Linked DNA regions of Homo sapiens. The protein of the gene in region 2 interacts with the protein of the main gene of each other region in a biochemical or structural test. Each region holds a gene or a part of one and is shown on either strand. Other genes may lie near its edges.

Region 1 (16,278 bases), on a different chromosome or scaffold from region 2:
CCGGGAGGCGGAGGTTGCAATGAGCCAAGATCACGCCACTGCACTCCAGCCTGGGCGACAGAGCGAGACTCTGTCTCAAAAAAAAAAAAAAAAAAAAAAAAAGAGCCGGGCACGGTGGCCTCATGCACTTTGGGAGGCTGAGGAGGGTAGATCACCTGAGGTCAGGAGTTCGAGAGCAGCCTGGCAAACATGGTGAAACCCTGTCTCTACTAAAAATACAAAAATTAGCTGGGCGTGTTGGCATATGCCTGTAATCCCAGCTTCTTGGGAAGCTGAGGCAGAAGAATTGCTTGAAACTGGGAAGCGGAGGTTGCGGTTGAGTCGAGATCGCCCCATTGCACTCCAGCCTGGGTGACGAGGAAAACTGTCTTAAAAAAAAAAATAGACATTCCCCAATATGGGTTGCAAAAATTGTGATATGTGTATATTTCTTGCATTTATCTGAGTTATGCTTTTAAAACAAATAAATATAATGACCAGGTATGATTTCAGTTGGAAATAAGATGAAAGGCTTTATAAACTGGACATACTGTGGGAACATGAGGCCCCTCATAAACCTGATTTAGACAAGTCTGATTTCTGGAAAGTCCTCTAAGGTAATGTGCAATGTGGCCTTGGGTGGGTCACCTCACCTCTTTGATGCCTCCGTTTTCTCATCTGAAAAGTGAACACAGGCCGGGCACGGTGGCTTACATCTGTAATCCCAGCTCTTCGGGAAGCTGAGGTGGGCAGATCCCTTCAGGTCAAGAGTTCGAGACTAGCCTGGCCAACATGGTGAAAACCCTTTTCTACAAAAAAAATACAAAAATTAGCTGGGCATGGTGGCACGTGCCTGTAATCCCAGCTACTCGGGAGGCTGAGGCAGGAGGATCACTTGAACCTGGGAGGTGGAGGTTGCAGTGAGCCAAGATGGTGCCACCGCACCCCAGCCTGGGCAATAGAGGGAGACTCTGTCTCAAAAAAACCAAAAAAGTGAATATACCAGTAGGCCCACACCTGGTAGGGCTGTTGAGACAATCCGCTCAAAACACTTTATTGCAATATGCACTAAGTATCTACCATGAGCCTGTGCTATGCTTTTTAGGTGCATTGGTTCAATTAATCCTTGAAGCCCAGGTTCTGAAGCCCGTTTTCCAAAAAAGAAGAGGCTCTGACAGGTGAAGTGATGAGCATCAAGGTTGATTCTGGGCTTGTGTTCTACCTGCCTCCCTACTAAAATGTTAGCCTATTACTCTTGTTGTAGTGGTGGTGGTTGCTCTTATTAAAATGAGCATATGATGATAGCACTGGCCTCGTTAACAAGTTCTGACGATTAAATGAATTGATATTGTAAAGAGTTTAGCATGGTGCCCAGCACACAATAAGCTCTCTGTATTTCTTAAATAAAATTAACAGTACAGCCCCGGAAAGGCAGAGTCCAGTGCCCAAGAAACTTGGTCCTCGGGTTTCTCGGCATCTTCCACCCCAGCTCCTGGCTTCGTCCTGTCCAGGAGGGGTTAAGGAGTTAATGATTTCCAAAGGAGCAGGGTTTTGTGTGTTACATGCACACACACCGGTGGCCTCTGTCCCCCCTCCCTCTGCGAGGCCCGGAGCCTCTTATGCAAGCCGCCGGCGCCCGCCGGTTCCCAGGCCCGGCTGCAGCTGGGGGCGGAGGGGCAGGGCGGGGGCGGCGCGCTGTTTGTCTAGCGCGGCTGTGCCAAAGGCTGCGGGCCCCAGACAGCCAGGCGCCTCCGTACACCTGGGGATGCTCAGGTTAAATAGCTCCGCATTCCTCGGGCCCAGCTGATGGAAACGCTCCCAGGCCGCCGCGGAGCCGGCCTCCAGATGGGCTGGGTCTGGGCCAAAGGGGAACAGAGGGAAACGTGGAATCCAGAGTGTGCCTGAATGGCGGGGGAGGTGGCCCAGGCCCCCGCCGCAGCCCCTTCCTCCCCTGGAAAAAGGCCCTGCATGTCGGAGTACGCGAGGGGGAACCCGCTCAGACCCCGTGGGTGGGCTTGCAGGCGGGGGCCCACACGTGAGAGTGCGTGCGTGCACACGTGTGCCTCCGAGGACACTCCAAGGACTCACAGGCGACAATAATAATTTATAACTATGAAACATTCTGTGCCAAGCACTGTGCTAAACGTTTTACACACTTACTTTATTTCATTTATTCTGTACTACATTCCGTGAGGTTAGTACTGTAATACAGCAGCCGGTGGGGAGGAGGTAGCAAAGAACATAATTCGCCTGCAAGTACTGGGTTCTTCGATAAAATCCATAAACTGTGGAGGGGGTGTACCTGGCTTAATGTTAGTGCTCAAATCATAATCTTTCATTTGATTTTTTGTTCATCCCCTCTCTGAGCTTGTTCCTTCTGCTGTAAAACTGGGATCACAGTCTTGCCTTTAGCCCCACAGGGATCCATGAAATCGTTTTTGTAAAGGGTTCAGTTGAGCAGAGCCAGGCTTCTGGTGCTAAGGGCTATTGATTTTATTCTATTGTTTATTGACAAAATATATTAATAGCCCTTACCTGTCTGGGACAAGTTCTTTGTCATTCCTGGGACTCAGTTTCTCCATATGTAATACAGGGGGGTTTACCTGGCAGCAATCCTTGAGGGTTGGTGCCCCCAGGACCTAACGATAGCCCAGGGAGTTGCCACGTGAACTTTTGAGGAAGGGTTTGCCCAAACACAGCTGTCCCCACCTTCACTCCAGACCCGCAGAGGCCCAGGAATGCCAACCAATCTATAGAACAGTTATACACACAGAAACCCACAGTGTGGTTCTGTGGCCCCCAGACACACAAACCCATCCATCATGCCAGACCCATGCAGAGATGCCTACAATGCATTTAGGCAGAACACACAAGCCCAAACAGCTGGAGGTTCCACACTTATCTGCAGAACACATGTGCTCTCATTTGCCCTTCTGCACACACCCCCAAGCATACTCCTACTTACACCCCCTCCCCCAAGCCTATATGTGAACAGTTGGCCCATCCCCACTGTGGGAGTAGTGGGGGAAGATCAGCTTACTCCTGTTACATACACAGGCGTAGACACTCATACATGCTCCCCTGAGTAGAAATCCACATACATGTCCAGGAAGATTCTTAGACCCTTGCCAATGACATATTTTTCCTGCTCAGGAGCTGGGTAATGAGACTCGTCCACTCCTCAGATCCTACGCAGGAGCCCCGGGGTTGGTGGGGGAGATTTGTTTGAACTGCCGACAGAGCCAGGCCAGAGTGAGGAGGCCGAGTCTGGACCCAGAGCAGGTGTCTCGGCAGCTGTGCCCAGCCTGGCCCTGCCAACTTGCTCACCCACTTGGATGAGCCAGGAGCCCCAGGGCTGCCTGCTGGAACCCAGAGGTAGGCTGTTGGGGGAGGCACCTCCAACTGGGGAATGGGGTGATAGAATCACTGCCTCTCACAAGCTATGGCCCTAAGCAAGTCCCTTTCCACTGGGTCTCACTTTATCCACATCTTGGCAAGGAAGTGGGTGGTCCAGCGGCCAGGTTCTCCAACTTAAATGGCTTGCTCAATACTCCCAATACAGAGGGGGCCCTGGCAGGTTCATCTGCATTTTAACAACCTCCCCAGGTGATCTAGATGGCCCAATGATCACTGTGAGAAACCCCAGAGGTCTGGAGTATTTAGTTTTATAACACTGGGGAGCAGGGAAATGGGCAGGGATGGTGGGGGAAGAATAGACTTTAAAGACACCGGAAACACTCATTCAGGCCGGTAAGAGCAACAATCCAGATGTAGCCCTCCAATTCTCCTCCCAGAACCAGCTGTGAAGAGGGTCAGGGGTCAACCCCCAGCCCAGGCCCCTCCCCTCAACCCAAGAAGTCACTACAACTTTACCACCATCTAAATTATTTGTTTAATAACAAAAAAACAGCCCCACAGAACTATTGTAAAACAATATTTTCAGTCGGTGATCATTGTAATATACAATACAAAGCAATTTCCTCAGAAATCTGAGAAGCACCAAACGTGACCATTTTTTAAAATGTCTGCTTTTCAAAAAATAGAAACACACGAGTGGAATCCCACCCCCTAAAGTCTCTGGTGACTAGTAGGTGTGCAGAGAGGAGCGCCCTCTCCTCGCCAGTGCCTCAGCCTCAGCCCCAGGCTGGATGCAGTTAAGGGCGCAGTGGCCGCCGATCGGTCTTGTTCTCCCTCAGATCCGGCGAGGCGCGTTGGGGGAGACCCACAGAGCACGTAATTCCTCTTGCCCCCTGGATGGCTGGGGTCCGCCGGTCCCTGGGGGAGGCGCTTCAGCGACACAAGATGCGATCGTCCGCAGGAACGCATGCCGCCTGTGAAAACGAGAAGAAATGAGACCGGCGGGTTGGAAGGGACGCCGCTCCGAGCGCAGCGAACGCCCCCTTCCCCAGGAAGCACGACGGGGGAGCGCTTTTTCCAGGCTCCTTAGGCACCCCCGCATAGCCAGGTACCCGCAAGGATGGGACGGAAGTGGTGCAAGCGCCCACGCCCTCTCTGGCCTCCGTTTCCCCGTCGGTATAAGGATGATCTAGTGGTCGGATCTGGATCTCACCTCGGCCGTCAGGGCGCTGATCTCGCCGTTGAGGGTGCTGAGCGGAGCCCGGACCGGCAGCCCTCGGCCCCCGGGGGTTCCAACTTCGGATTCCGAGTTCAGCTCCAACTGAAGGTCCCTGATGTAGTCGATGACGTGCTGGAGAATCTCCACCTTGCTCACCTTGCGGTTCTGGGGCAGGGTGGGCACCAGCTCCTTGAGGCGTGAGTAACAGCCGTTCATGTCGTAGAGCAGCACGTTTACCTGCTGCTCGTCCAGCAGGGCAGGCAGGCGCGCCCCGGCGCCCCCGGCGCAGCGCGAGATGGCCACGCTCTGCTCAGACAGACAGCGCACCACCTCGCCCGCACCGCTCGCTGTCTTGCCGGCCTTCAGCGCGCAGCTGGGGCCCGCGGCGGCGGTGGCGGTGCTGCCACTGGCGACTTTCATGATTCTTGGCGACTGGCTGAAACAGAATGGGCAAAGCGAAAAAAATGAGGTGGAAGCCCGAAGCAGATACGGAAAATGGAACAGTTAAGAACGTGGAATGAGAGTGCGGAGCCACAGCTTGTCTTTTATAAACACGCCACGGCCCCCGGAGGGGCGGGCTCAGAACGTTCAAAAGCAGCCAATGGGCGGCATGGGGGCGTGACCCGCGCTCCTAGGTCCAGCCTCCTGCTCGTCTAGTGCCTGCTCGCAGTGTGGAAAGACGACCCGGGTTTCAGAACAGCAAGGGTGGGTCGGTGGCAGGGCACCGGGCAGGGCAGCGGGTAGAGGCGAGGGCCGCACTGGGCTCCTCTGGAAGGAGGCAAGGAAGCTAAGCAGGCATTGCCTTATAATGAAAAGACCTCAGGAATCAGTTTTTCCCATATTCACTTTCTCACTTCTCCAGCTCCATTTCACAGATGAGAGAAATTGAGGCCCGAACGGAGAAGCGGCTGGCTCTGGATAGCCCAGAGAGCCTGGGTTTCCGGACCCTCTTGGAAGATGCTTCTCGGACCCTGATCTACAAATATCAGGACCGAAATTTAAAGCGGGCGCTCCTTTACATCTGCTCCCCTGGGCTTTCTCAATTCCTAAATAATGTTGCTGTTCGTGTTCCTGAGACCCGGAGGGCCTACCCAGATCCCTCCCGGGTGGGAGCAATTAATTCGGGAAAGTCTAGTAAGTTTGGGGCTGGGTGGCTGGGAAGTGAACTAGATAGAGCGCAGTGGAGTGAGGCTGCATTCGATTCCACCTTGAATTTGCAGCTCCTTGCAAAAATTTCCTGAACCTGCAACAGTTCGTGATTTTTTAATGTTTTTTCCCATTTTTGGCTGCTTTTTAAATTTTCTTCTCAAAGACCTCAGAGCAGGGTCTCCCTCCCACGGCGCGGCAGCTGCGGAGCTACAGTCTCCCCCCTCCCTTCCCGGGCCGGTCTGTGTCAGCGTCTGAACCAGCGGCTCAGACCGTTAGACGCCAGGCCTGTGACGTCACCCATTCATAAAACCCGGACGGACTGTCAGGCTGGCGCCGCGCGGGCGGTCGCCATGGAGACGACAAACTGGTCTAGCTAGTTCCCGTGCTCCCCCCAGCCCGTCACCTGCAGACCCCGGGCGGGAGGCCTGGGAATGCGTTTCTTGCGGGCGCGGTCGCTGAGCAAGGGTCACCTTACCTCCCCGCCCCACACCTGCGAGTCTCCCAACCCAGACCCACAGCTTGGGCCGCTTGGGGTTTCTTCACCGCTCCCCCCACCTCTCCGCCCCAGCTACCCCTTCCAGCGTGGGGAAAAAGGCCTGAGTTCTCTTTCCAGCTCTGCAGCTGAGTGAATTCAGGCGGGTCGCATGCCCTCTCTGAGCCCTAATATTTAATATCTGCTTGGTGTTTAAATAATAATCACAAACGTGACCATTATTAATTTCTTACTTTGTACAGCGGGCACTGTATGAAGAGTTTGTCTTGATCATCTTTTTTCATTTATTTCTTATTTTAAAAAATGAAGGGCTGCGCGGTGGCTCACGCCTGTAATCCCAACAATTTGGAAGGCCGAGGCGGGTGGATTGCCTGAGGTCAGGAGTTCGAGACCAGCCTGACCAATATGGTGAAACCCCATCTCTACTAAAAATACAAAAATTAGCCGGGCATGGTAGCGTTCGCCTGTAATCCCAGCTACTCGGGAGGCTGAGACAGGAGAATTGCTTGAACCTGGGAGGCGGAGGTTGCAGTGAGCCGAGATCGCACCACTGCACTCAAGCCTGGCGACAGAGTGAGACTCGTCTCAAAAAAAAAAAAAAAAAAAAGGATACAGGGGGCCGGGCGCAGTGGCTCACGCCTGTAATCCCAGCACTTTGGGAGGCCGTGGTGGGCAGATCACGAGGTCAGGAGTTCGAGACCAGCCTGACCAACATGGTGAAATCCCGTCTCTACTAAAAATGAAAAATTAGCCAGGTGTGGTGGCGCGCACCTGTAATACCCCAGCTACTCAGGAGGCTGAGGCAGGAGACTCGCTGGAACCCAGGAGGCGGAGGTTGTAGTGAGCCGAGATTATGCCACTGCACTCCAGCCTGGGCGACAGAGTGGGACTCTGTTTCAAAATAAAATAATAATGATACAGGGTCTTACTCTGTCACCCGGCTTGATCAACTTCTGTAGTCTTTTTCACAACTCTAAAGAAAGGAGCTCTTTGGTTTCTTTATACAAAGGAAACTGAGGCTCCACACGACGCCTAAGTCATAACCATAGTTGTGTTATTATAAGGAGGGTACAGTGTTGTAATGCAACCGCTTCCTGCTGAGAGCAGGCAGTCTGACTGCAGAGTCCTGGACATGCCACAGGTGGGGAAACCGAAGCTCAGATTAGTCACCCAAAGCCACACAACATTAGCAGGGGTAAAAATCTGTGCTCACCAGTGGAGGGTGATATTATGGTCCCTCCCTGCTCCGCTCCACCGCACTACCCCGCAGCAATTAATTCACTGAGTTATCAGCAGGTTCCGTTTTCCCACAGAAGTTCGGGGGATGAGGGAAAAGTAAAGGAGCCTTCTGCCTCCACATCAGGAAACCAGGAAAACCAAACCAATCAGTGAGACCAGCTTCAAAAGAGAGAGACATCATCAATTAATTAGCCAGACTCCTCATCCCCTTACCACACACACCAAAACTCTCTAAACTCCCTACGCCTTGTTTAGCAATCCTAAATTAATGATGGGAGGGAATAGTTTGCTGCTCAAAAGAATTGCCAAATAATTGGAAGAACAACAGTCAACCAGAGGAAATTAGAGTATTAATTCATCACCAAGTGTTTATTTTTGTTTATTTTTGAGGCAGAGTCTCGCTCTGTTGCCCAGACTGGAGTGCAGTGGCGCGATCTCAGCTCACTGCAACCACCACCTCCTGAGTTCAAGTCATTCTCCTGCCTCAGGCTGGGATTACAGGCACCCACCACCACGCCCATCTAATTTTTGTATTTTTAGTGGAGACGGGGTTTTGCCATGTTGCCTAGGGTGGTCTCAAACTCCTGACCTCAGGTGATCCGCCCGCCTTGGCCTCCCAAAGTGCTGGGATTACAGGCATGAGCCACCGTGCCTGGCCATCACCAACTATTTATTTATTTTTTTTTGAGATAGAGTCTCAGACTGTCACCCAGGCTGGAGTGCAATAGCACAGTCTTGGTTCACTGCAACCTCCGCCTCCTGGGTTCAAGCGATTCTTCTGCCTCAGCCTCCCAAGTAGCTGGGATTACAGGTGCCCGCCACCACACCAGGCTAAATTTTTTGTCTTTTTAGTAGAGACGGGGTTTCACTATGTTGGCCAGGCTGGTCTCAAACTCCTGACCTTGTGATCTCTCCACCTCAGACTCCCAAAGTACTGGGATTACAGGCGTGAGCCACAGTGCCTGGCCTTCAACTGTGAATTAATTGATCCAGCAATTCTGTTTACTGCAATGAATTCCAGAGAAACCAGCTTGGCCAACATAGCAAAACCCAGTCTCTACTAAAAATACAAAAATTAGCCAGGTGTGGTGGTGGGCGCCTGTAGTCCCAAGTACCTGGGAGGCTGAGGCAGGAGAATCATTTGAACCCAGGAGGTGGAGGTTGCAGAGAGCCGAGACCAAGCCACTGCACTCCAGCCTGGGCGACAGAGTGAGATTCTGATTCAAAAAAATAAAAATAAGAGAGAAAATTATGCTGTAGAAATTAATTCAGGGCCAGGCGCAGTGGCTCACGCCTGTAATCCCAGCAGTTTGTAAGGCCAAGCCAGGTGGATAACCTGAGGTCAGGAGTTCGAGATCAATCTGGCCAACATGGTGAAACCTCATCTCTACTAAAAATAGAAAAATTAGCAGGGCGTGGTGGTGCACACCTGTAATCCCAGCTACTTGGGAGGCTAAGGCAAGAGAATTTCATGAACCCAAGAAGTGGAGATTGCAGTGAGCCAAGATGCCACCACGGCATTCCAGCCTGGGTGACAAAGCAAGACCCTGTCTCAAAATATAAATACATAAAATAAATAAAATGACATAGTATTTGTATAAAACCTATGCATATCCTTCTATCCACTTTTTTTTTTTTTTGAGACGGAATCTCGCTCTGTCACCCAGGCTAGAGTGCAATGGCACGATCTCCGCTCACTGCAACCTCTACCTCCCAGATTCAAGCAATTCTCCTGCCTCAGCCTCGCGAGTAGCTGGGATTACAGGTGCCCACCACCACACCTGGCTAATTTTTGTATTTTTAGTAGAGATGGGATTTCGCCACATTAGCCAGGCTGGTCTCGAACTCCTGACCTCAGGTTATCCGCCCTTTTCCACTTCCCAAAAATGCTACACTTGCAGGCGTGAGTCACCGCGCCCGGTCTTTTTTTGTTTTTGTTTTTTGTTTTTTGAGACACAGTCTCGCTCTGTCCCCAAGGCTGGAGTGCAATGGCACGGTCTCGGCTCACTGCAACCTCCGCCTCCCGGGTTCATGACATTCTCCTGCCTCAGCCTCCTGAGTAGCTGGGACTACAGGTGCCCGCCACCACGCCTGGCTAATGTTTTTCTTTTCTTCTTTTTTTTTTTTTTGAGATGCAGTCTCGCTCTGTCGCCCAGGCTGGAGTGCAGTGGTACGATCTCAGCTCACTGCAAGCTCTGCCTCCTGGGTTCACGCCATTCTCCTGCCTCAGCCTCCCGAGTAGCTGGGACTACAGGCACGCGCCACCACGCCCGGCTAATTTTTTGTATTTTTAGTAGAGACAGGGTTTCACCGTGTTAGCTAGGATGGTCTCGATCTCCTGACCTCGTGATCTGCCCACCTCGGCCTCCCAAAGTGCTGGTATTACAGGCATGAGCCACTGCACCTGGCCTTCTTTCTTTTTCTTTTTTGTTTTTTGAGACAGAGCCTCACTCAAGTCGCCCAGGCTGGAGTGCAGTGGCATGATCTCAGCTCACTGCAACCTCCGCCTCCCAGGTTCAAGCAATTCTCTGCCTCAGCCTCCCGAGTAGCTGGGATTACAGGTGCCCGCCACCATGCTCAGCTAATTTTTGTATTTTTTTTTTTAGTAGAGACAGGGTTTCACCATCTTGGCCAGGCTGGTCTTGAACTCCTGACCTTGTGATCCACCTGCCTCGGCCTCCCAAAGTGCTGAGATTACAGGAGTGAGCCACTGTGCCCGGCCTTTTTTCTTTTTATTTTTTGAGACGGAGTCTCGCTCTGTTCCCAGGCTGGAGTACAGTGGTGCGATCTTGGCTCACTGCAACCTCTGCCTTCCAGGTTCAAGCGATTCTCCTGCATCAGCCTCCTGAGTAGCTGGGATTATAGGGGCCTGCCACCACACCTGGCTAATTTTTGTATTTTTCGTAGAGATGGGGTTTTGCCACATTGGCCAGGCTGGTGGTCTCCAACTCCTGACCTCAGGTGGTGATCCACCCGCCTCTGCCTCCCAAAGTGCTAGGATTACAGGCGTGAGCCACCGGGCCGGCGGTCATTCCTTCTTATTGCTAAGTAGTGTTCCATTATATGGATATACCACCATTTGTTTATCCAGACATTTGGTGAGGGGCATTTGGATTGTTCGTAGTTTTTGGTTAGTAAAATAAAACTGCTATGAACTTTTTTTTTTTTTTGAGACAGAGTCTCGCTCTGTCGTCCAGGCTGGAGTGCAGTGGCGAGATTGCGGCTCACTGCAAGCTCCGCCTCCTGGGTTCACGCCATTCTCCTGCCTCAGCCTCCCGAGTAGCTGGGACTACAAGCGCCTGCCACCGCGCACGGCTAATTTTTTTTTTTTTTTTGTATTTTTAGTAGAGATGGGGTTTCACCGTGTTAGCCAGGATGGTCTCGATCTCGATCTCCTGACCTCGTGATCCGCCTGCCTCAGCCTCCCAAGGTGCTGGGATTACAGGGGTGAGCCACTGTGCCTGGCCATGAACTCTTGTATACAGGTGTTTATGTGAATGTATACTCAGTCTTGCTCTGTCGTCCAGCCTGGAGTGCAGTGGCACAATCTTGGCTCACTGTAACCTCCGCCTCCTGGGTTCAAGCGATTCTCCCACCTCAGCCTCTGGAGTAGCTGGGATTACAGGCGCCCACCATCACGACTGGCTAAGTTTTGTATTTTCAATAGAGATGGAGTTTCACCATGTTGGCCAGGCTGATCTTGAACTCCTGACCTCAAGTGATCTGCCCACCTCGGCCTCCCAAAGTACTGGCATTACAGGCGTGAGCCACCACAACTGGCCGTATTTGTTTAACTTTACAAAAGAACTGCCAAACTCACTGGGCACAGTGCATGCCTGTAATCCCAGCACTTTGTGTGGCCGAGGTAGGCAGAATGCCTGAGCTCAGGTATTCAAGACCAGCATGGGCAAGATGGTGAAACCCCATCTCTTACAAAAAGTACAAAAATTAGCCAGATGTGGTGGTGCACACATGTAGTCCCAGCTACTTGGGAGGTTGAGGCAGGAGGATTGCTTCAGCCTGGGAGGTTGAGGCAGGAGGATTGCTTCAGCCTGGGAGGTTGAGGCTACAATGAGCCAAGATCATCGTGCCACTACACTCCACCCTGGGCAACAGAGTAAAACCCTGCCTCCAAACAAAACAAAAAAACCCAGCCAAACTGTTTTCCAAAGGTGGTTGTATCATTTTATATTCCTATCAACAGTATTTGAGAGGTCCAGTTCTTCCACATCCTCTCTAACACTCCAACAGTTGGTATGTTGTATAACTACAGTACAATATCACAACCAGAATTCAGGTGAAATTCAGTTTTCTTTTTTGTTTTTTGGAGATGGAGTTTCGCTCTTGTTGCCCAGGCTGGAGTGCAATGGCATTAATCTTGGCTCACTGCAACCTTTGCCTCCCGGGTTCAAGCGATTCTCCTGCCTCAGCCTCCCAAGTAGCTGGGATTACTGGCACGCGCCACCACGCCTGGCTAATTTTTTGTATTTAGTAGAGACAGGGTTTTACCATGTTGGTCAGGCGGGTCTTGAACTCCTGACCTTAGATGATCCATCCGCCTCGGCCTCCCAAAGTGCCGGATTACAGGCGTGAGCTACTACGCGTGGCCTTTTTTTTTTTTTTTTTGGAGACAGAGTGCTCTGTCGCCCAGGCTGGAGTGCAGTGGTGCGATCTCGGCTCACTGCCACCTCCGCCTCCCAGATTCGAGCAATTGTCCTGCCTGTCGAGTAGCTAGGATTACAGGCACACGCCACCACGCCTGGTTAATTTTTTGTATTTTTAGTAGAAATGGGGTTTTGCCATGTTGGCCAGGCTGGTCTTGAACTCTTGACTGCAGATGATCTGCCCGCCTTGGCCTCCCAAGGTGCTGGGATTACAGGCATGAACTACCGCGCATGGCATGAAATTCAGTTTTCACCCAATTTATATGCACTAATTTTTGTGTGTGTTTTCAGTTCTATGCAATTTTTTCTTCTTGGAGACAGGCTCTTTCTCTGTCCACCAGGCTGAGTACAGTGGTGCAATCACGGCTCACCACAGCCTCGACCTCCTGGGGTCAAGCGATCCTCCTATTTAGCCTCCCAAGTATCTGGGACTACTGGCATGTACCACCACACCTGGCTAATTTTTTATTTTTTTGTAGAGAAGGGGTCTTACTATGTTGCCCCAGGCTGGTTTAGAACTCCTGGACTCAAGTGATCCTTCTTCTTTGGCCTCCCAAACTGCTGGGATTTACAGGCATGAGCCACCACACCTGGCCTTATCTTTTACATGTTTAAGGCCTGACAAGGAGTTTAAATAAAGATTGCCTGCTTATCTTGTTGTCAGATGGGCATTTTTCTGGCCTTGTTGGTAGTGTGAATTGAGTGTGCATTTTCTTCCCAGTCCTCCTTTCCTGAGTCACCTTAGGAAAACCGACACTTCTGGTGGCCAGGAAGTTCGGAGGGCTCCTTAAATGAACCCCCATATTCCCAACCCAGCATTCATGGTCATAGTCTCTCAGGAAGCCCTTTTCACATACCTGGCACATCTGATTTCACAACTGCTCCCTGGAGCTGGTGCAGCTGTATTATTGTAATGCCCCATTTCACAGATGGGAATATTGAGCCCCAGAGAGAAAAAGGGACCAGCCCTTCACTGCCTCCAGTCCTGGCTGTGCCATTGACAAACTGGGCCTCAGTTTCCTCATCCATAAATTGGAGCTAATGCTCATCCCTCTTCGTAGGGTGGTTGTGAGAGTGAAATGAGCCATACCAGGAGCCAACTGCAGCACCTGGTGATAAAAGGGAGTGCACTTTCCTTAGGATTTTTCTGTCACCACACCTCCTTCTCTGCCTTCCAGGGTGCCTCCTCTGGCCTCCAGAGCTCCAGGCAAATGGCTTACATTTACTAAGAGTTTCCTCAATGCCAGGCCTGGTTCTAAAGCATTAATTGTGTGCTTAGAAGGGAAGGGACCACGGAGGTCCTGTTCCCTGCTGTCACGCAGAGCCTCATGCAGCACCTGGCATGTGGGAAGTGCTCAACGAATATTTGTTGAATTAGAAATAAACAGCCTGGGAGCACTTTGGGAGGCTGAGGTGGGTGGTTCACCTGAGGTCAAGAGTTTGAGACCAGCCTGGCCAACATGGTGAAACCCCATCTCCACTAAAAATATGAAAAAATTAGCCAGGCCTGGTGGCGGGAGCCTGTAGTCCCAGCTACTACAGCTACTAGGGAGGCTGAGGCAGGAGAATCGCTCGAACCCGGGAGGCAGAGGTTGCAGTGAGCTGAGATGGTGCCACTGCATTCCAGCCTGGGCAACAGAGTGAGACTGCGTCTCAAAAAATTAAAAAAAAAAAAAAAAAAAAAAAAAAAAAAAGAACAGCCTGTGGAACTGTGGTAGTAATATCATGTCCCCTTCACAGCTGAGGCCATGAGACCCAGAGAGGTTGAGTGACTTGTTTCAGATCACAAAGCTGGGAGGTGGCATTGAACCCAGGCACTCTGTCCTGAGGCAGGGGCTGTGTGGGGCTGCAGGGGGCCGTGTGCCTGGACGTCTACAGTGCACAGTTCCTCCTCGTTGACGCACTGTTCTCGTCCAGAGTGTTCTCCACTGCCCCTCCTAGGAGTCTTGGCCTTGTAGGCTCCAGGACGGTCCTGCCCTGTGCCACGTGACCCACTCTGGCCCTGGCTCGGCAGCTGCTCCCCAGATGTGCCCACAGTGCAATCTTCCAGCCGCCAGGCCGGCGCCTCTGGGCTGGGACTGCCGGAGCTGTGGGGGAGAGACCTTTGGCTCTGGCTGTCCCCACACCCCCAACCCTTGTAACAGGAGACTACAGGCCCCCCCACTACCACCAGAACCAGCACATCTCACGGAGAATAAGATCCAAACTCCTCCCCTGCCCACTACCCAACTGGGCCCCTTCCCTTTCTCTCACCAGCCCAGAGGCCTCCCTCCTTAAACTATTAATAGCTCTGTCCTGCCTCAGGGCCCTTGCCCTTGCTGTTACTTGTTCCTAGAACACTGATCAGCCCCAGGTCTTTGCCAGACTCCTCATTCTTCAAGTCTCAGGTCAAATGTCGCCTCCCCAGAGGCCTTCTCAGATCCCCCTAGGCTACTTTCTTTTACATTCTCCTGCTCTTATTCACTGAATTCATTACCATCAGAAATGATCTTTGTTTTCTTGTGTATTTGCCATTCCTTGCCTCCTCCTCCCTGCCCAGGCTATGGGCTCTAAGAGAGCAGGAACCACGGCTCCTTTGGTCACTGCTGTGTCCCAGAGCTGAACTAGGGCCTGGCCCAGAGAAGGTAAGCAACTTGCTCAAGGTCACACAGCGTACTACTTGAAATACAGTAATGTTTAGAGTAGTGTCCTTTGAAGAATAAATTGTTGCCTTATGGTTCAGTGTACTCCTGTGCAAAATGGGTACAAAATATGAACTTAACCTGCAGAGTTATGACACTTCTGCACTTAGCACATGGTAAGCATTCAGAAATGGAAACCACAATAGACCGTTTTGTTTCCATTCTGGGGTGTCATTTTTCCATCCCCCAAACCCGGCAGGAGGCTGTGGGTGGGCACATAAAGGGTGTGGGGCTTCAGGCTCTCTCCCTTTTAATAGGAATGAAACCCCTCAGTTTTCTCATCCACAAAATGGGGACTGTCCCCAGGCCCTCCCTCCTAAGGATTCTGTGCTGTGCCCCTGGGTTGTTTCAGGGAGTGTGGGGGTCCAGGCCTGTGTCCACCTTTCACCTCCCATCCTGTTTTCCAGAGAGGCCCCAGAACAATGGACGGGAGGCTGGAGCCTACCAGTCTGGGCCCCTCCCAAGTCCCCTGCCGATGGAGGGGGGTGGGGTTTTCCTGTGGCTGGACAAAGGGCCATTGCTGCCCAGGGTCTCCAGCAGCCAAAGGCAAGGGCAGAGCCAAGGCTCAGGGAGCTCCCATCTTAGGTTACTCAGCATAGGCCAAACCTGCAGGGTTACACAAACACACTGCTTCGCACACCCACAGAGCAATATACAAATGCACACACCCACACGCCCAACGTGGCATTTATATGTACGACTGACACAACAGACAAACCCAACAGCCACACACCAATAGACACAACCTGCCAAATGCACAACGCACAACAGTACACCATAATATACAACCAACACACTGACCTCCGCGCACACTACCGAAACACCAAATCTGCATAACCAACACACCAAAAAATAGAGACCAAGGAGGAAATGTCTCAAAACACCCCATTATCACTCCTAACAGAACCACATGCAATGAATCCTCTCAACAAACAGGACACACAGACACATGCACCCACACTACAACATTGCAAACACTACACACACTTACATCTATACAGTATTACTCACGCCAAAACACCTGGGACTCCAAGATGCCAACACACATGCCCGCAGCCTTAGAGAAGTCCACTGCCTGCAAAAGGATAAACTGGCTTCCTGCAGGCACCCACTCCCACAGTGCACAGACCCAACCAACACCCACCTGCACCAGGCCAGAGACCTCCCACCACAGCCCTTCTAGAGCACACAGTCCCCTTACTCTCCACACATACACAATTCAGAATCCTGCAGAAAGGCCAGGTGCGGTGGCTCACGCCTGTAATCCCGGCACTTTGGGAGGCCAAGGCAGGCAGATTATATGAGGTCGGAAGTTCGAGACCAGCCTGGCCCACATGGTGAAACTCCCTCTCTACTAAAAATACGAAAATTAGCCAGGCGTGGTGGTGCACGCCTGTAACTCCATCTGCTCGGGAGGCTGAGGCAGGATAATTGCTTGAACCCAGGAGATGGAGGTTGCAGTGAGACGAGATCGTGCCACTGCACTGCAGCCTGGGC
Region 2 (17,034 bases):
CTAAAAATGAAACTCTTACCCCTAAACACCCATCCCTTTCCTCCAGTTACTCTCTGGCACATCACCTTATTAAATTACATTGCTTATGTTTTTTGTTTTTTTTGTGTGTGAGTTACCATTCCCCCTTACTAGACTATAAGGTACATAACTTTGTTTTGTTTATCACTGTATTTTCAGTGCATACAACAGTACAGAGCACATAGCTGGCACTCAATAAAGATACAGAATAAATGATTCTGTCTGCCACTACTACTTTTGTGTCTGCCCCATGGGTTCTATAAATCCTAGTCTAGAAGTTCCCTGCAACCCTGACACAGGCTATGTGATCAACGCTCATCTTTTCCTTTCCTAGATCTGATGACATTTATGTCCTCTCCTATGTCCAATCTCCTTCCTACATTTCATATCATGTGCCATGTGGCCTTTGTCAGAAAATGGAAAAGCACACTCTATATCCAAGGCCCAGAACATGGTAAGAGATCAATAAATATGTGTTGACTAACACCTCTTCTTATGGCTCTGACATGTGTCATTCAGAAAACCATACCAACAGGACATAACCTGCCATACTGAGAATTTACCCACTTCTCCTAAAAGATAGTAAGTAGTAACAATAAAATCGACAAGGACTAAGTTTGACTACACCTCAATTATGTTTTTCCTAAATTTATTCTCATGAGTCTTTGATTTCTCATCCAAACACACACCACAGACATATGCACCTAAAAACAAAACAAACAAAAACATCTGCTTCTCTTAGGCTCTCCTAATCTCCATATTATGTCCAGACAAGCCTAAATATGCACATGGACAGAGCACAGACTAGGTTTAGTTTTCTTTCCTTTTTATGTCTTCTCTTAAACAGAAGACATAGAAATTGTAAAAATTTCAAGCAGTACAAAAGTGCACAGATGCCAGGCACCGTGGCTCATTCTTGTAATCCCAGAGGATCACTTGAGCCCACATGTTTGAGACCTGCCTGGGCAACAAAGCAAGAGCTCATCTCTACAAAAAATGTAAAACATTAGCTGGGCACAGTGGCGCACACCTGCAGTTCCAGCTACTTGGGAGGCTAAGGCAGGAGGATCGCTTGAGACCAGGAGTTCAAGGCTGCATGGAGCTCTGATTGTGCCACTGCACTCCACCTGAGTGACAGAGCAAGACCCCATCCCAAAAAAAAAAGTGCATAGAGGGAAAAAAGTGAAAGTTCCATCAAGCTCATTGCTCAGAACAGCTTCTAAATCCCACCATCAAGTCATACAAAAATCAGTTTCCTTACTTCATAATTAAAACTTTGCATTGGTCTTAACATATCTGAGGTATTAGGTTCAGTTCTAGGAGTTGACTTAAAGAGACAATTAAAACCTAAACTACTTTTAAAGGTAAATGCTAAGGGATGTGAAGATAGGGAAGCTGTCATGAGAGAAACATTTGAAGAAATGGCTTCTTACAGAATATCCACAAGACTCAAAGGGAAATATAACTCATTCCCCTGTTTGAAAGGCTGTAATGTGCAAACATGCATGTTTGTTGTGCAGGGCACTAAAGAAAAGAAGTAGAACTGTTGGGTCGGAAAGACAAAAAACAAATCCTGGCTGACACATGGGAAGACCACCTTGGGAAGTAAGGGTCTATCATATAATGTAACCTCTAGGATACTTCCTAGAAACTTAAATCCTGATTAGGATTGAAAACAAGGAAAACCAAAATGTTTCATTAAAATGTCTCATTAGGCCAGGCACGGTGGCTCATGTCTGTAATCCCAGCACTTTGGGAGGCTGAGGCGGGTGGATCACGAGGTCAGGAGTTCAAGACCAGCCTGGCCAAAATGATGAAACCCTGTCTCTACTAAGAATACAAAAATTAGCCAGGCATGGTGGTGGGTGCCTGTAATCCCAGCTACTCAGGAGGCTGAGGCACAGAATTGCTTGAAGCCGGGAGGCGGAGGTTGCAGTGAGCTGAGATTATGCCGCCACACTCCAGCCTGGGCAACAGAGCGAGACTCCGTCTCAAAAAAAAAAAAAAAAAACTTTCCTCAGTTAATTCTATCAATCAGGTACATTAACAAATCTAGAAGAAACTTGATTGCAATGGCAACCCAGCTTCCCATTCGTTCTCTATTACCACTGTGATCATTAATAGTTACTGAACATGTACTGGGAATTCTAAAGTAATCTTGAATAAATAAGACTCGGGGGTTTTCTTGAGTGATAAGAGAGGCTCATGATCTAACAAAATACATGAACTATTCATTATACTTAAACTGTACTGCTGTGAAATCTAACATGGAGTCCAAATATTTGAATTGATCTCTCTGGCCATGGCCTTAAAAGACTGTAACTTGTTTGTTTTAACTTTAATGAAACCACTTTATCATGAGGTGTAAAACAAAACCTAGTATAGCCAAGGATTTCTCTGTAAGTCTCTGGTAAATCTAACATTCCGTATTAACTGTTAAAGCATTAAAATATTATAAATAGCATGCCAATTTCAAAGTCCTCCAAATCTTTCATTTGTCATAAAGGTGTTTACAGCATCATAAACGTAACTAATACCTGACATCATATATTATTAAAACTGCCATTTACTTCTATAAAAGACTTGACCTATGGTGACTGAACTCTGAAAAATCAGGAAGAGGCTGGCAGTTAGAGAAAAGCAGATCTGTCACATTATTTAGTCAACTCCAGTTCAAATTCCAAGTAACTTACCCTTAACATTTTTGCTGAAATGATCTAAGTAACAAAAGCTCTATAATAAAATTTTTTTTTTGTTTTTACAAAAGCAAAGCTACATATGGTTCCCAAACATAAGTATACAAAATGGAACCCAACTGGTGCAGGTGAAACATCTAGAAAGCATGTTAAAAATGTGGAATCTAATGAATCCCTAAATATCCTAAATTCAAAGTCTGTGTCAAAGTCCTTGGATCCACACTTTCAAAGTCTCACTGATGATTCTGACTACTAGTCAGTCTGGAAACCAGTTATATATTTTTTTGTTAATAATCTCAGTTACTCCCATACATACAAGTTTTTGATTCTCTAGGATCTATTCTCTGGTTAAGAAACACACAGACCTGGCCCAGTGGCTCAGGCCTATAATACCAACAGTTTGGGAGGCTGAGATGGGAGGATCACATGAGGTCAGGAGTTACAGATCAGCCTGGGCAACATAATGAGACCCTGTTTCTACAGAAAATTAAAGAATTAGCCAGGCATGGTGGCATGCACCTGCAGTCCCAGCTGCTTGGGAGGCTGAGGTAGAGGTAGGAGGATCACTTGAACCCAGAAGGTCAAGGATGTAGTGAGCTGTGACAGTGCCACTGCACTCCAGCCCATGCCACAGAGCAAGACCCTGTCTCAAAAACAAAGGGGAAAAAAAAAAGAAACAGACACACACACACATACACACACATACACACACATACACAAACACACAAATTTGGCTATCTCTAGTGAGAACTGTCATCTATTCCTCGGAAATAAGAGCATAACAGGTAAACACATTATTACTACTCAGTTTGGCTGGTTTCAAATCCTGAGCCTAACCAATTATCAGCTGTGTAACTTTGGGCATGTTACTTAACCTCTCTGCCCCTCAGTTTCTTCATCTCTAAATCAGAGATTTAAAATTGTACTTCCTGGCTGGGCAAGGTGGCTCATGCCTGTAATCCCAGCACTTTGATAAGCTGAGGCGGGAGTCAGGGGTTTGAGACCAGCCTAGCCAACATGGTGAAACCCCGTCTCTACTGAAAAAAAAGAAAAATACAAAAATTAGCCAGGTGTGGTGGCACAGGCCTGTAGTCCCAGCTACTCAGGAAGCTGAGGCAGGAGAACCGCTTGAACCCAGGACGTGGAGGTTATAGTGAGCCGAGATCATGCCACTGCACTACAGCCTGGGTGACAGAGCGAGACTCCATCTCAAAAAAATAAAACTAAAATAAAATAAAATCACACTTCCCCATGGGGCTGTTATGAGAATTAAATAATCGAACATGTACAAAACATCTAGAACAGGACCCAAACAGTAACAAGGGATCAATAAACGTTAGCATATTTTCATTATTATCATTATTATTTAATACAGGAAAGAAAGGAGACCGAATTGAACTGGAATAGTCAAACATTTCAGAGAGCAAAGGATACATGAATGTTCCTAGAGGAAGAGATAGGGCTTTAGGGATGATAAGAATAAACAAAAGTAGTATGCAAAAAGAATAAAAAGACTAAGAACTTCAGGGTTCAAAATTGGCATTTTGGACTATAAACTCAAGTTATATTAAACGGGCCCATTTATATGCAACTTGAAAACCAACCAGAGAAATTAAGTAATAATTCAAAAGATAATGGGAAGCTCATACAGTTCTTAAATAAGGCAGTAATATATTAAATATAAGTTTCTAAAATTATTGCCTAGTCAAGATGCTAGCCTGAGGATAAGGAACCAGCCTGAAGGAGAATAAGCCATTGATGAATTTTGGAAATACTTTTGTCTGCTAAAATAGCAAAGAATCACTCAGAGAACTGGACACCAAATAACCAGAATCTTCCAGAATAGACAGAGGTACATTTAAACAAAACAGAAACGTCTACCCTAAAAAGATCAAAACAACCATTTGTAGGATATTTGCAAGTGAGTAGCATAAAGATACTTCAAAGGAATGACCAAAATCATGGAAATTATATGTGTAACACGATAGCTAGCTAGCTAGATATAATTTCTTTCTCCAGAACATTTCTAAGGGGTCCTAGTTAAGGGACAAAACATTTGTTTTCTAAAGGACATCTGTCCTCCGGTAACGTTTTCTCAGAAGAAAAATACTTTCAGAACAAACATACTTTCAGAACATAGTCTGCTCTGGCTAGTGTTATACAGCCTTACTAAATCTCTTAATTCTACCACTTCCAAAAGTTAATATCCCAGAAATCATTTGAAAAATACTGGGCTGTTAATTAGATCTCAATGGAACTGAATCACAACACTTAAATCCCTGATCCAATCAATGGTAAACAGCATTAAATTGTTAATGTCATTACCGTAACTACTTTCTCTTTTCTTCAATTAAAATTTAGCCAGGACAATTATCATGAAGTACAGTGGCCATTGTTAAATCAATCTCTGGACCTTGGGGAAAAAAATGTTTAACAATTCACAGAATCCAAATAACAAGTGTTGCAAATTCTTCTCTAATTCAAAACTCTTCTCATCATATTTAACATTTACAGCAACACACTAAAGAGAAATTCCTCCTTTCCTCATCTTTACTACAAAAAAATATAAATATCCCTGGCATCCTTACTCTTTTTGTTACTATAGTTACCAACACATACACTCTGCTGCTCACACTAGGCTAAAATGAGTAACTACCTTGTGCCACACATTAGTATACCTTCACAATGCCTGACTCACTATGCTACAGAACACTCTATAAACCTACCTGATTTCAGTTAACTTCCATTAGCTAATAAAGGTTGATAATAAAAACACACTGAGTCTCATAAGGGTGAAATTTGCCATTCCTCGGACCATAGTGAACACCTCATAATGGTCAGTCTCCTTGTCACATCATTTAAAAGGAGCTAAAGACTAGAATTCAAAACCACACATACAGTTGACCCTTGAACAACACAGGTTTGAACTGCACGGGTCTACTTACAGACAGATTTTTTTCAATAAAAGTTACACCAAGTGTGCCCAACTCTCCTGCTTTCTCCTGCTTCCCTTCCACCTCCACCTAACCTACCTGGCACACCCTGAGACAGCAAGACCAACCCTTCCTCTTCCTCCTCTTTCTCAGCCTACTCAAAGTGAAGATGACAAGAATGAAGTCCTTTATGATGACTCCCTTCCACTTAATGAACAGTAAATATATTTTCTCTTCCTTATTTTTAAATGTTTTCTCTAGCTTATTTTATTCTAAGAATACAGTATTTAATATTATAACATACAAAATATGCATTAATCAATTGTTTATATTATGGGTAAGGCTTCTGATCAACAGTAGGCTATCAGTAGCTAAGTTTTGGGGGAGTCAAAAGTTACACATGGATTTTTGACTGCACAGGGGGTTGGTGCCCCTAAACCCTGTTTTGTTCAAGGGTTGATTGTATATCAGCCTACTGAACAGATTCCAAAGTTAACAACTTTGAATCTATTAAATGTGATTTGCTTAATTTTCCAAAAAGTCTATGACAGGGCACTATGCCAAAAACACAAAATCTTTTGCCATGTAACTGGGAGTAATAGGTTAAGATAGAGAGGAAGTTAGTTTAGAAATGGGAAACAAATGATGGAGATAATTACTAACAAAAGCTCTGGACGAAAGAATTCAGAAAATGGCATCTTTAAGAAATTAATGGTATCATTTAAAGAAGAGCAGCATGTTTTTATTTCCTAGATTATCTTGCAAAATGGAAAACAAACCACTTGAAAACACAGAAAATCCTTTGTAAAATACTTGTGACTGAGCCCTGTAAAAAGAAGACAGGTGGAAACTGGCCCATCTGATTGGAAATGATCAAGGTCTGTTGAAACTTAGGCTAGCATAGGTATGGGGAAATAGGCATCCTCATATTATGAGCAGGAGTGTCTCTATAAAGACGGCAATATCAGTCAAAATTACAAATGCATACACCCTCTGACTCATCAATTCCATTTCTAGGAATTTATGTGACAAATATACAAATATACAAACATATACACATATATAGGCAAAACTTAAATTCAATGTCAGTAAAAGCAAAAGACTAGAAAAAATTTAAATGTCTACACATATATATATACATATATGGGCAAAACTTACACTGCAGTGTCAGTAAAAGCATAAGACTAGAAAAAAATCTAATTGTCTATCAATAGGAACTGATTTAAAAAATTATGACAAATCCAAACACAGTGTAGTGGTAAAAAAGGAATGAAGAATGAAGATATATTTACTGATGTTGGGTTAAGTGAACAAAATGCCAAAAAAAAAAGTATTTCTATTAAGCATACTATTTGTGTTAAAAGGAGGGTGGGGAGGAGATATACCTATAGATTATCTCTGGAAGTATACTACTAACACAGGTGGCTTCCAGGAGGAGGAAATGAACAGCAGGGCACCAGGAGACATTTCCCCCTATACGCTCGTGTATCTTTTGAATTTTGAACCATATGAATGTCTTACCTAAAGAAAATTAAGCTGGGTGCAGTGGCTCACGCCTGTAATCCCAGCACTTTGGGAGGCTGAGGTGGCTGGATCAAAGGTCAGGAGTTCGAGACCAGACTGGCCAACATGGTGAAACTCTGTCTCTACCACAAATACAAAAAAATTAGCTGGGCATGGTGGCGAATGCTTGTAATCCCAGCTACTCAAGAGGCTGAGGCAGAGAACTGCTTGAACCCAGGAGGTGGAGGTTGCAGTGAGCCGAGATCGCGCCACTGCACTCCCGCCTGGGTGACACGCTGCAGCCTTTTAAAAAGTCCTCTTTATTTTTTTCTCTCATCTAACTTTTTCTTTCTCATTCCCTCCTATTAACATTTCCAGTTCATTTTACTCTCCTCTATTTACGCCTATTAGGGACATTTACTACAACTGCTTAGCCCAGTTGGGAGTCCAGTTACTAAATGCCAACAAGGTTGGTGAACTCTGTTCTAGTAATTGTCATAAAAAATGGGTGACAACATCAGCTATAAAAGAAATCTGAGTATTTACAGAAGGGTAGATAACTATACTTAAACAGGAAACAAAAAAATAAGAAAGGTGAAGGAATAAGGGGATACTCATTCAATATTCTCTGCTTTGTCCATTCTTAGTTTATTACCTTTAAAAAAAAAACCTCTTAATAAAAACAAAGTACGCTAGAAAAGTGATTTTTCCCTCTCTGTTAATTAAGGAACCAAACCTGCCTTCTCAACAAGACTATATAGTGGCCCAACACATAGAATACCTAAAGAATCAGTAGACACCATGGTCACTGCTCTTTAGTTACTTAATGTTTTCTCTTTTCATTTCCATTAGGTCATTTATTTGCAAACAGATCCACATATTGTTATTTCACATGCTAATATCTAGTTTTGTCAAATTTTATGTCACGTACTCAATATTTTTTGCATCTCAGATACTGAAATAAAGGCCTAGAGTCTCATCTGCCAAAGTTGAAACATAATTCTCTCTCATACGATGCTAAATAACTCCTTTTTTGTCTAAAGCAACGTTTGCTTCTAGAAATAACTAAATCATAACTGATTTGTCCTCAATACAGTTGTAACTGGGGGAAAAAGATATAACTGGTCCTGTGGTATATGGGAATCTGGGTAAGAACTACTGCTAACAGGATGTCATAGACAAAGACCACTGTTCAACTGTGTATTCACATGTAGTGTGACTAGCAACTATCATAAAGAAAAGCTCTTTGCCTCAGAAGTTCTAAAAAAAATTGAAAGCTCACAGGCTCCAAATTATTAATAATAATCAAATCTACCTGTATACTTTTTAATTTATAAAGCATTTCCCATACATCAAAGAAAATCAGAAGCTCAAATTAATGAACTGATTTTCCAGCTAAGATTTAAATCCAAGTCATTCCAATATACAGCTGTACATTATCTATTATCTATCTATTCTTAGTTTAAGTAGGTAGATATACCTAACTCACGAGTAGATGAATAGTTACATGAAAACGTTCTTTCCCAAGGTCTAAAGTGCTATTCTTACCTTTTTTTTTTTCTTTTTTTTTTTTGAGACAGGGTCTGGTTCTGTGGCACAGACTGGAGTACAGTGGCATGACTACAGCCCACTGTAACCTTGAACTCTTGGTATCAAGTGATCCTCCCACCTTGTCCTCCCAAAATGCTGAGACTACAGGAGTGAGCCACTGTGCCCAGCCTGCTAGTCTTATTTTATCCAAACCCTACATCGGTTTCCTCCATCAGATACAAAAGTCCTGCCTACCAGTAACATTTCTCTGAATAACTTTTCAAAATGCCCAACGTTTACTAAAATCAAATAAGTGCGTTTTTTTCTAAAACTACTAATTTTCAATTAAAAAATATAAGATTTTCATTTCTTTACAAATCATAGAGCAGAAAAATTTATCCAGAATTACATTGAGATTCCTGACATTTGTGACCACAAAACATATAAAACTGCCACATGGGAAAAGACAGGTCTCTGAACTTCACACAAAAGGTAATTAATATTTTTAAAGCAGAGTGAACACACATGTGAAATATACATCATATAGTTATACAAACTAAATTAATTTTCTAACTTGGCATAATGACAGGGTAGCTTGGAGGGAATATAAAAGAAAATACTCAAGAGCTTAAAATTAACAATGGGCCCATTTATTCAAGGTAGGATGGCTCTCTCATTTCAGCTTGAGGACTGAAAGTCTTTCTGTCTTCCGGTAGGAGGGAAACTGCAGCTGGCAGGTCTGGAGAATCGCTCAACTACATTCACAGCTTTACTTGGAGTCAAGCAATGGCAAGAAAAGTCTTCATCTTCACTAGGCACTGGACAACACGGAGAAATGCTGACTTTGAGGTGTTTAAATTTCATCCTTTGAGGATCAGTTCAATTAACTTCTCCTAAAGGAAACCAACCCCCACAAACAAAAGATTTACACCCACTGAAACTGAGAAACACTTATCAGAATCTGTCATTTCATAGAATATTGACTTGTGACAGGTCTTACGACACTGTCTAGTTCTATAGCACTGTGCTTATTTCTTTTCCATCCAACCTTTGTACTCCCCACTTTGTATCTTCTTCAGTGGCTTCTAGGAAGTATTACTATAACTACTGAATCAATGAATTCATAGCAAAGTGTTTCACAATTCTGTCCTTCTCTGTTCTGTGTTAGACTCCCAAACAGGGCTCCATAATCCAAGCAATAGTAAGTTTCTTCTGCTTTTCAAATCCAATTAGAATTTTGTCCAAGCTTATAACAATTTATCCTCCCCTAACTCTTGAGAATCAAAGTCATTGTTATTTAGATGTTAAAAAGTTTGACCTAATTCTTATCTCTTAAAGAAACATCTAAAATGTGTTTACAGAGAATTGGGATATCATCTTCAGGTAATCCAAATATTGACAGTGAAGAAAAGAGCCCAAACATAATGAGAAAGTAACACACAGCAGAGTATTTCAACTTTAGGATATAACAACTTAAAAGATGTTACTCACAAATATATAATCTTTATCAACTGGCCAAAATATAGCCTTGAATTATCCAACAAGTCTCCTATTTCTTGTTATAAAATATACTGGCAAAAACCAACAAACCCACACTGCTACAATGAAACCCATCCTCACATTCCATGGCTTCAGGGCAATTCCATAAACACAGGATCATAAAAAGACAGCCTGCAAACTTAGGTAGCCCGCACTCCATTTTAAGGATCGGAAATTAAATGACATGTGATCATCCAGCTACAGCAACCTGAGGATCTTTTTAAAAAGCTAGCAGGAACTGGCAATCTTATGTTAGAAATCCACCAACAAAACAGTATACAAAATTCATACAATACAGATGATGAAGAAATTTGAGTCCAACGTGAAAATGTTATAGCTTGTATGCTTTAGGATACAAGTTGTATTCAGCATATTCACATGCTGATACAACAAAATCTAAAGAAAATGGAATGTTCAAGTCCCTGCTAGTGGCTTATCTCATAACACAATTCGATACACCAGAGCTCCAGTGTTATAAAGGAATGTAAATGACCCTTTGGAGTTCAACATAATAATACCTAATCAGAGGAAAAATTGCACAGTTTTGAACTCTAAAGATGCAGATTCCCAGCTAAGTACAAACTTCTGATTTTTTTTCCTTTCTTAATTTCAGTGGACAATAAGTTTAAAAAAACAAAACAAAACCATAACTGTATGTTCCCTACAACTACGGGGGTTAAATATTTAATGTTTCAAGTCTCTAAATAGTTTTCTTTTTAAAGTTTATAATATTATTATAAAAGATAATTGAGAGACTGCCAGACCTTGCTAAGAATTTCATGTGCATTATTAAAGTAAGTGAATCATTAAATTACATGTTTTAAGCATGCTTTCAGGTTTTAATTGTTTCTTGATACTATTAATTAAAGAACCTGATGACCAGTAATATCCCAGTAATTTTACATAATTAAGGCAGAAAAAGTATAACCAAAGAACTAATTAAGATGAGAGTAAGTTAAAAATTTATAACATTAACAATCTTACCACAATATAAATTAGTTATTAAACGCAAACCTTTATTAGGCAATGTTACTAGGCATATTTAAACCACACAAGGGGTTAAAAATAACTACAATGAAAGGCCAAGAGCCTAGCAGCCCGATTGAGCCAACATTCCCTTCTCTCCTTCCCCTCCCCTTCCAATCCTCTCCAGTCCAGAATGAATTGCATGCCCCACTGCACAAGGCCCAAAAAGGTCACAGTAGATGGCAGAGACTTTTGTAAGAGAACAGAAATAACTCAGCAGCTTTGTTACCATAGTCTCTTTTAATCAGTATGTTCAAAATCCTTTAATTAGCACTCTGTCTACACAAGGAAAGCATTTCTTCTGTGCCAGGGGAGGGCACATATGTATGTACACAGTGTTCTGTTGTATCAGCATCACAACATGGAGCTAGTACCTCAAACTGTCTGCCAGGAAACTGAAGCACATGAAACTTTTTTAAAGACACGGTACCACAAAATTCGCAAACATACTCTATTTGCATTTCTATTACCACACAACAAAGTGATAATTAAGTTTGGCTCATTTAGGTGTCAATTTGTTTCTGAACTTTTTTTCAGCAAAAAAGTAAGCATTTAAACTAATAACTTTCTTTAGATAATTAAAGTAGAATATTTAAAATATAAAATGCTAACAAAACGTAAAAACCAATAATACTCAAAGATTGCTCCTGTTCCCATAATAGATCATCAGTAGAAGAAATAAAATACCAACTCACTCAAACAGGAATAAATCACATGACACATTTTCACATGGATGCTTTACATTTAAAATTTCATCTAACCATGAAAGGTGTTAAAACTTGCAGGCTGGATTACATATATATACTTCCTTATAAAATCTAATTAACTGAAATCAAGGCAGAAATTGATGATAAATTAAAGATAACTTTAAAAAAATCCACAGCCAAGAAACAAAGGAGACTCCGTTAGTAAAATGGGATTTGCAGTATTTTAATAAGGATATTTAGGCGTTACAAACTTATTTTTAATCTTTCAAAATGAAGTTGGATACACATACAAGATGCAGAGTATGTGTGTGTATATATATTTATACATACACATATATTATTAACCAAAATGACAATCTTCTAAATATCTGATTAAAGAAACAACTAACTAAATTTAAGGTAAAGTGAATTATTAAAGAGGCAGCACAGCATAACTGTTGGAAAGCCAGCTCTTCCATACAGTCATGTGAGCGCACAGCACAGTTATATACAATGGGAATAATATCACTATTTTGCATGTTGGTATGATAATTAAATGAGATGATGCATTCACAGCACTTGATAAATATCCAAGTTTGTTGGTAAGACTGGCACAAAAATAGTATTTTCATGCGTTGCACAAAAGTGTAAATTGGCACAACCTTTCAAAATGACGTAGATACATATATTCACATATATATGTATGTACTTATATTTGGTATTCACTGTACCACTGTAACAGTAATATGGAAATGCCACAAATACTCTTCAGTAGGGGATTGGTTAAATGTCACTTTCCTTATAAAATAAAATTATACAATTGTTTTAAAAAAACACACATACCTCCTTATATATTAATAGAGAATGATCTCAGGGTAAATTGTTGCAAAAAAAAGCAAAGTATAAAACAGTGTGGGCCAGGCACGGTGGCTCACGCCTGTAATCTTAGCACTTTGGGAGGCCGAGGTGGGCAGATCACCTGAGGTCGGGAGTTCAAGACCAGCCTGACCAACATAGGGAAACTTGGTCTCTACTAAAAATACAAAATTAGCCAGGCGTGGTGGCACATGCCTGTAATCCCAGCTACTCGGGAGGCTGAGGCAGGAGAATCGCTTGAACTCGGGAGATGGAGGTTGTGGTGAGCCGAGATTGCGCCACTGCACTCCAGCCTGGGCAACAAGAACAAAACTCTGTCTCAAAAAAAACTGTGTGTATAATATGCCACCATTTGAGTAAAAGAAGATGGAAATTCATATTTATTTGAATATGCAAAAACAAACCTTTTAGAAACTTATATAATAGTAATAATTACCTACTGGTGATGAAAGTGAAACAGTACCTGACATATAGTCAAGTCTCAATAAATAGAAGCTTTAATTACTCCTCTCATCAGTGCTATCATCATCATCATGAAAACATATCCTTAAAATATATACACAGAATACATTCAAACTAAATCCATAATGAGGTAAAAAGCCAAATCTCAATTATTCATAGGCTATCTAGTTGGAGCTCCAAGCCCTTCATTTCCTCTTCAAGGGTAAGTAGCTTTTGGCCATCTTACTGTTGGCTATCACCTCCACCAGAAAGTGAGCTGAGGAAATAATTCCGAAACAATCATTTTATTCAATTTTGATCAACAGTTTTTAACAAACAGCTTTTGGAACTGAAAGAGATTATTAAAATCCCATAGCACAACCTTTGAAAATTATATATGAAAGAACGAAGATTCAGAGAATTCCCCAAATTAGGGACAGTTCAAAAATGTACAGTCTGTTCCTAGTTAAATGCTTTTTCCATTTTATTATTGATAACATGGGGGAAAACGAAAAGAAGTTAAATTGAAGTCAGTTATCCTTGCTAAATCTACTCCCCTCATCCTTTATTATAGATAATCAAATTTGCCAAGATCAAATCCCAGGAGCAATGATAATAAGTAGAGTACAGGTCAACAGAGAATTAAACAACTCAGCCCGAGGACTAAGCACTGAATGAACATCTATAATAAAATTTGTAAAGTTTACTTACACTAGAGATTGTCAGAGGCATGTTGAAATCCTTACCGCCCTGCAGCCGGAAACCCCAAGGAGCTGGGCCAACCAGTGACACACTGTAGTTGCTCATGGTTCTAATGGCTCAAAGTCCAATGACAGAAAATGAAATATGCTGTGAAAGAAAATCAGATGATTAGCAAAAATGTTTACTTGAAACCCTAGAACATAAATTATGTTTAGTATTTTGTTTGAGGGGGGTGAGAGGATATAGAAGATAAGTCTTAATTAAGTTCTTCATTAATTTCAGTTTAAGAAAAGCAATCTGTGAGCTAATATAAATTTTCTACACTCATGGCAATTTCCATGGTCTAAAAATTCCATATCAGAATACATTTCTAGACACTTAGTATGTTTCACAACTTGCTTCAATCCAATTTTGTGGCTTCTTGCATGCAAAGTTTAACTCAAAGTACTTTACAATACTTCACTAATGTAGCAAGATTTTATTTCAGGTTGAATTCAGAATAATTTTCTCCTTCCCTCCACTTCATGTATTCTTTTGTCTGCAATTGACAAGAGTCTTTCAACTGCACTTACTTAAATTCTAAGTTACTCTAACATGTGAAAGAGACTGCAAATCAGTAGGCTCCCATTCATGCTTTCCAAATACTAAATTCTTTACAATGAGAAGCTGTTTTTCAATGCACAAAACTATTCTCTCCAATCATGAACTACAACTTGTATTTCCTCCTATGGGGACATGGTATTTTCCACACTTAAAGTGATATCTACTTTTCCTTCAGATAGTCAACGATAGGCAATACTCTAGTACAGTGATGTTAGTCACAACCTGCTTTTTGTTTTATACACACACCTCACCAGGCAGAGAGTAAGCATTTGCCACTCAGTGAATAAGATTATGACTAAATACAGCAAAAGTGCTGGGTTAATGCATTCAAATGGAATTGGCAGTTTAGAAAAGAACCAGTGCTTCGGTGCTTTCTTTTGTCTGTTCTGCTGTTAAGTGTGCGTGTGATGACTCTCCTAGTAGTACTTTCATATAATTTTTAAAAAGCAAAAAAAAAAAAAAAAACTTCGAGTTTCCTATTGGTTGTTATAACGGCAGGAGACAGAGGAATGAAGTTTTCTTTTGTTTTAATGGAATACTAAGAAACAATAATTCTCTCTCTTTAAAAAATATTAAAAACATAACAGATATGTAATTTTATATTAAAAACATACTTCCTTGGAAAATGTAAGCTATTCAACCAAATCACCACCTAATATTACCTGTCTTAAAATATGTTTTAACCCATTCAAAATTTCTAGCCCATCACCCCAAATTCATAGTTGCAGATATAGATATTTGAGCCATAGGTATATTTAAAGCAAACATTCCTTCTTCTCATAAAGGGAAAATGGGGCAAAACATTCAAATAAGCCTGGTTTTTAAAGAAAAATTATATCAGGGAAAATAAAAATTACAGAAAATTGTATCAGAAACCGAAACAGCTTTTCTACTGGCGTGGTAGTATACTGAACTACAAGGCAATAACACATTACTTCAGTAATGAAGTAATAGGCACAGAGCACTAAAAAAGATCCAAAGGCCAAGCCGGAAGTCAAACTGTATATATAGGTGAAAAACTACTAGTGGGAAGCTAATAACGAGCCACACATAATTCAATTGCTTTCCCGCTATAAAAGGAGGAGATTTTCAGAAAACTAATAGAAGGACTGTCCTGATATTGACACGATACAAATCAGAATCGTGTAAAGCCAACTGATATTTCACAGGCAGCCTGCCCTCCTTTATTAATCTTTAACTTGTGTCTGGGGAATAATATGAAAGTTGGGCTCAACTTCCTCTGGCCCCATTCTTCCCTACAAGAAAATGTATTTCATTTAGATTATCAACCCATGTACTTGCAACTTCCCTTTACTTGGGGATTCCCTTCCTAACTTCTCTCATTTGTTATTAAAATTCCTAGCACTGGCAAGGTCACAGCCACACTACAAAACCAGTGTCATTTCATTTCTAGTCACTGTCCGTTCATTTCTAGATGCTTCTTCTGCTAGCTTCATTTGGAATTCATCTGCCTTAAAACAGTCTCTGCCCCAAGCAATGGCAATATTTTTATTGGCCTTTCCAAGACTCCTCCATCTGGTTATTAGTGCCCAAGCCCTTCCTCAAATACCAAGCAGGCAGGAAATAGCAGCATACTCTTTCAAACACGTCGAAAAGGTTGGAATTTCTGTAGAGTTATGGATTTTCTTTTAGGGAAAGTCTAAACAATGTCTTTGCTCTAGTACTAGGGAAGGAAGCTTGGTATTTCCCACACTTGTATCTCAGCTTCATTAGTGGGTGAGAGGGGAGAAAGGAGAACTCAAGATGAACTACACAGAGTGACAAAAAAAAAGGCCTGAAATTAAAGAGAAATATCTTGAGATTCTCTTTCCCCGCAATGGAGAGAGAATGTAGGTAGAGCTGAAGAACTAAAGCCACAGGCACAGGATGAAAGCAGCCGACAGGACAGTTTTCCAGGAGGGATTCGCGCCTAGCCTTGTTGGCCAAATAAGGCTACCGAACGGGCCGTTTCCGTGGCAGGCGGGTTCAGACGTCCTCCCCGTCAGGAAGGCGGACTTGGGATAGGATCTGGCGATCACACCCTAAATCTGCCCTGCCCAGCGCCGCCACGAATTTTCCTTCCAAGCTCTGCCCTGTCCACACGCCCTTCCTTTTTCCACTTATTGTAAAACGCACCGAAGGCACAGTCTTACAAAAGCCCCAACAAGTACTCAAGTGTTAACAAATCTCGTGTTCATGACAAATGTGTTTCTTAAACGAGCTTTATTTCTGGACGCGCAGAAGTTTTCCCCAAACAGGTTACACAAAACTGTAAATATCTGGGGGAGAAATAAATGCTTCTCAGTAGCCTGGGAGCAAAGAAAAACTAACGCGCCTTTTCCTTTGAGTCCCGCTTCCTACCCTCCAAGAGACTGGCGCAGGACTGGGCACTCAGACACCACACCACGGTGGTGCCGGGCGACGCCGGCAGCCGGGTGGGTGGGAGCGGCAGTGCCCGTCCCTGCCGGCCCTCGCCACCTC

The links.
Region 1: the proteins of PDLIM5 (region 2) and ID1 form a complex in vitro, tested with the Homo sapiens proteins (one study listed by IntAct).

What each region holds. Positions count from the first base shown.
Region 1 is NC_000020.11:31,594,085-31,610,362, reverse strand, and holds ID1 (DNA-binding protein inhibitor ID-1), read right to left. Parts: upstream 5,075-16,278; 5' UTR 4,976-5,074; coding exon 4,550-4,975; coding exon of another isoform or gene 4,526-4,549; exon of another isoform or gene 4,311-4,525; coding exon 4,269-4,310; 3' UTR 3,853-4,268; downstream 1-3,852. UniProt on the Homo sapiens protein: Transcriptional regulator (lacking a basic DNA binding domain) which negatively regulates the basic helix-loop-helix (bHLH) transcription factors by forming heterodimers and inhibiting their DNA binding and transcriptional activity.
Region 2 is NC_000004.12:94,452,310-94,469,343, reverse strand, and holds part of PDLIM5 (PDZ and LIM domain protein 5), read right to left. Parts: intron 14,098-17,034; 5' UTR 14,056-14,097; coding exon 13,960-14,055; intron 13,526-13,959; exon of another isoform or gene 13,101-13,525; coding exon of another isoform or gene 12,786-13,100; exon of another isoform or gene 12,160-12,785; intron 1-12,159. UniProt on the Homo sapiens protein: May play an important role in the heart development by scaffolding PKC to the Z-disk region. May play a role in the regulation of cardiomyocyte expansion. Isoforms lacking the LIM domains may negatively modulate the scaffolding activity of isoform 1.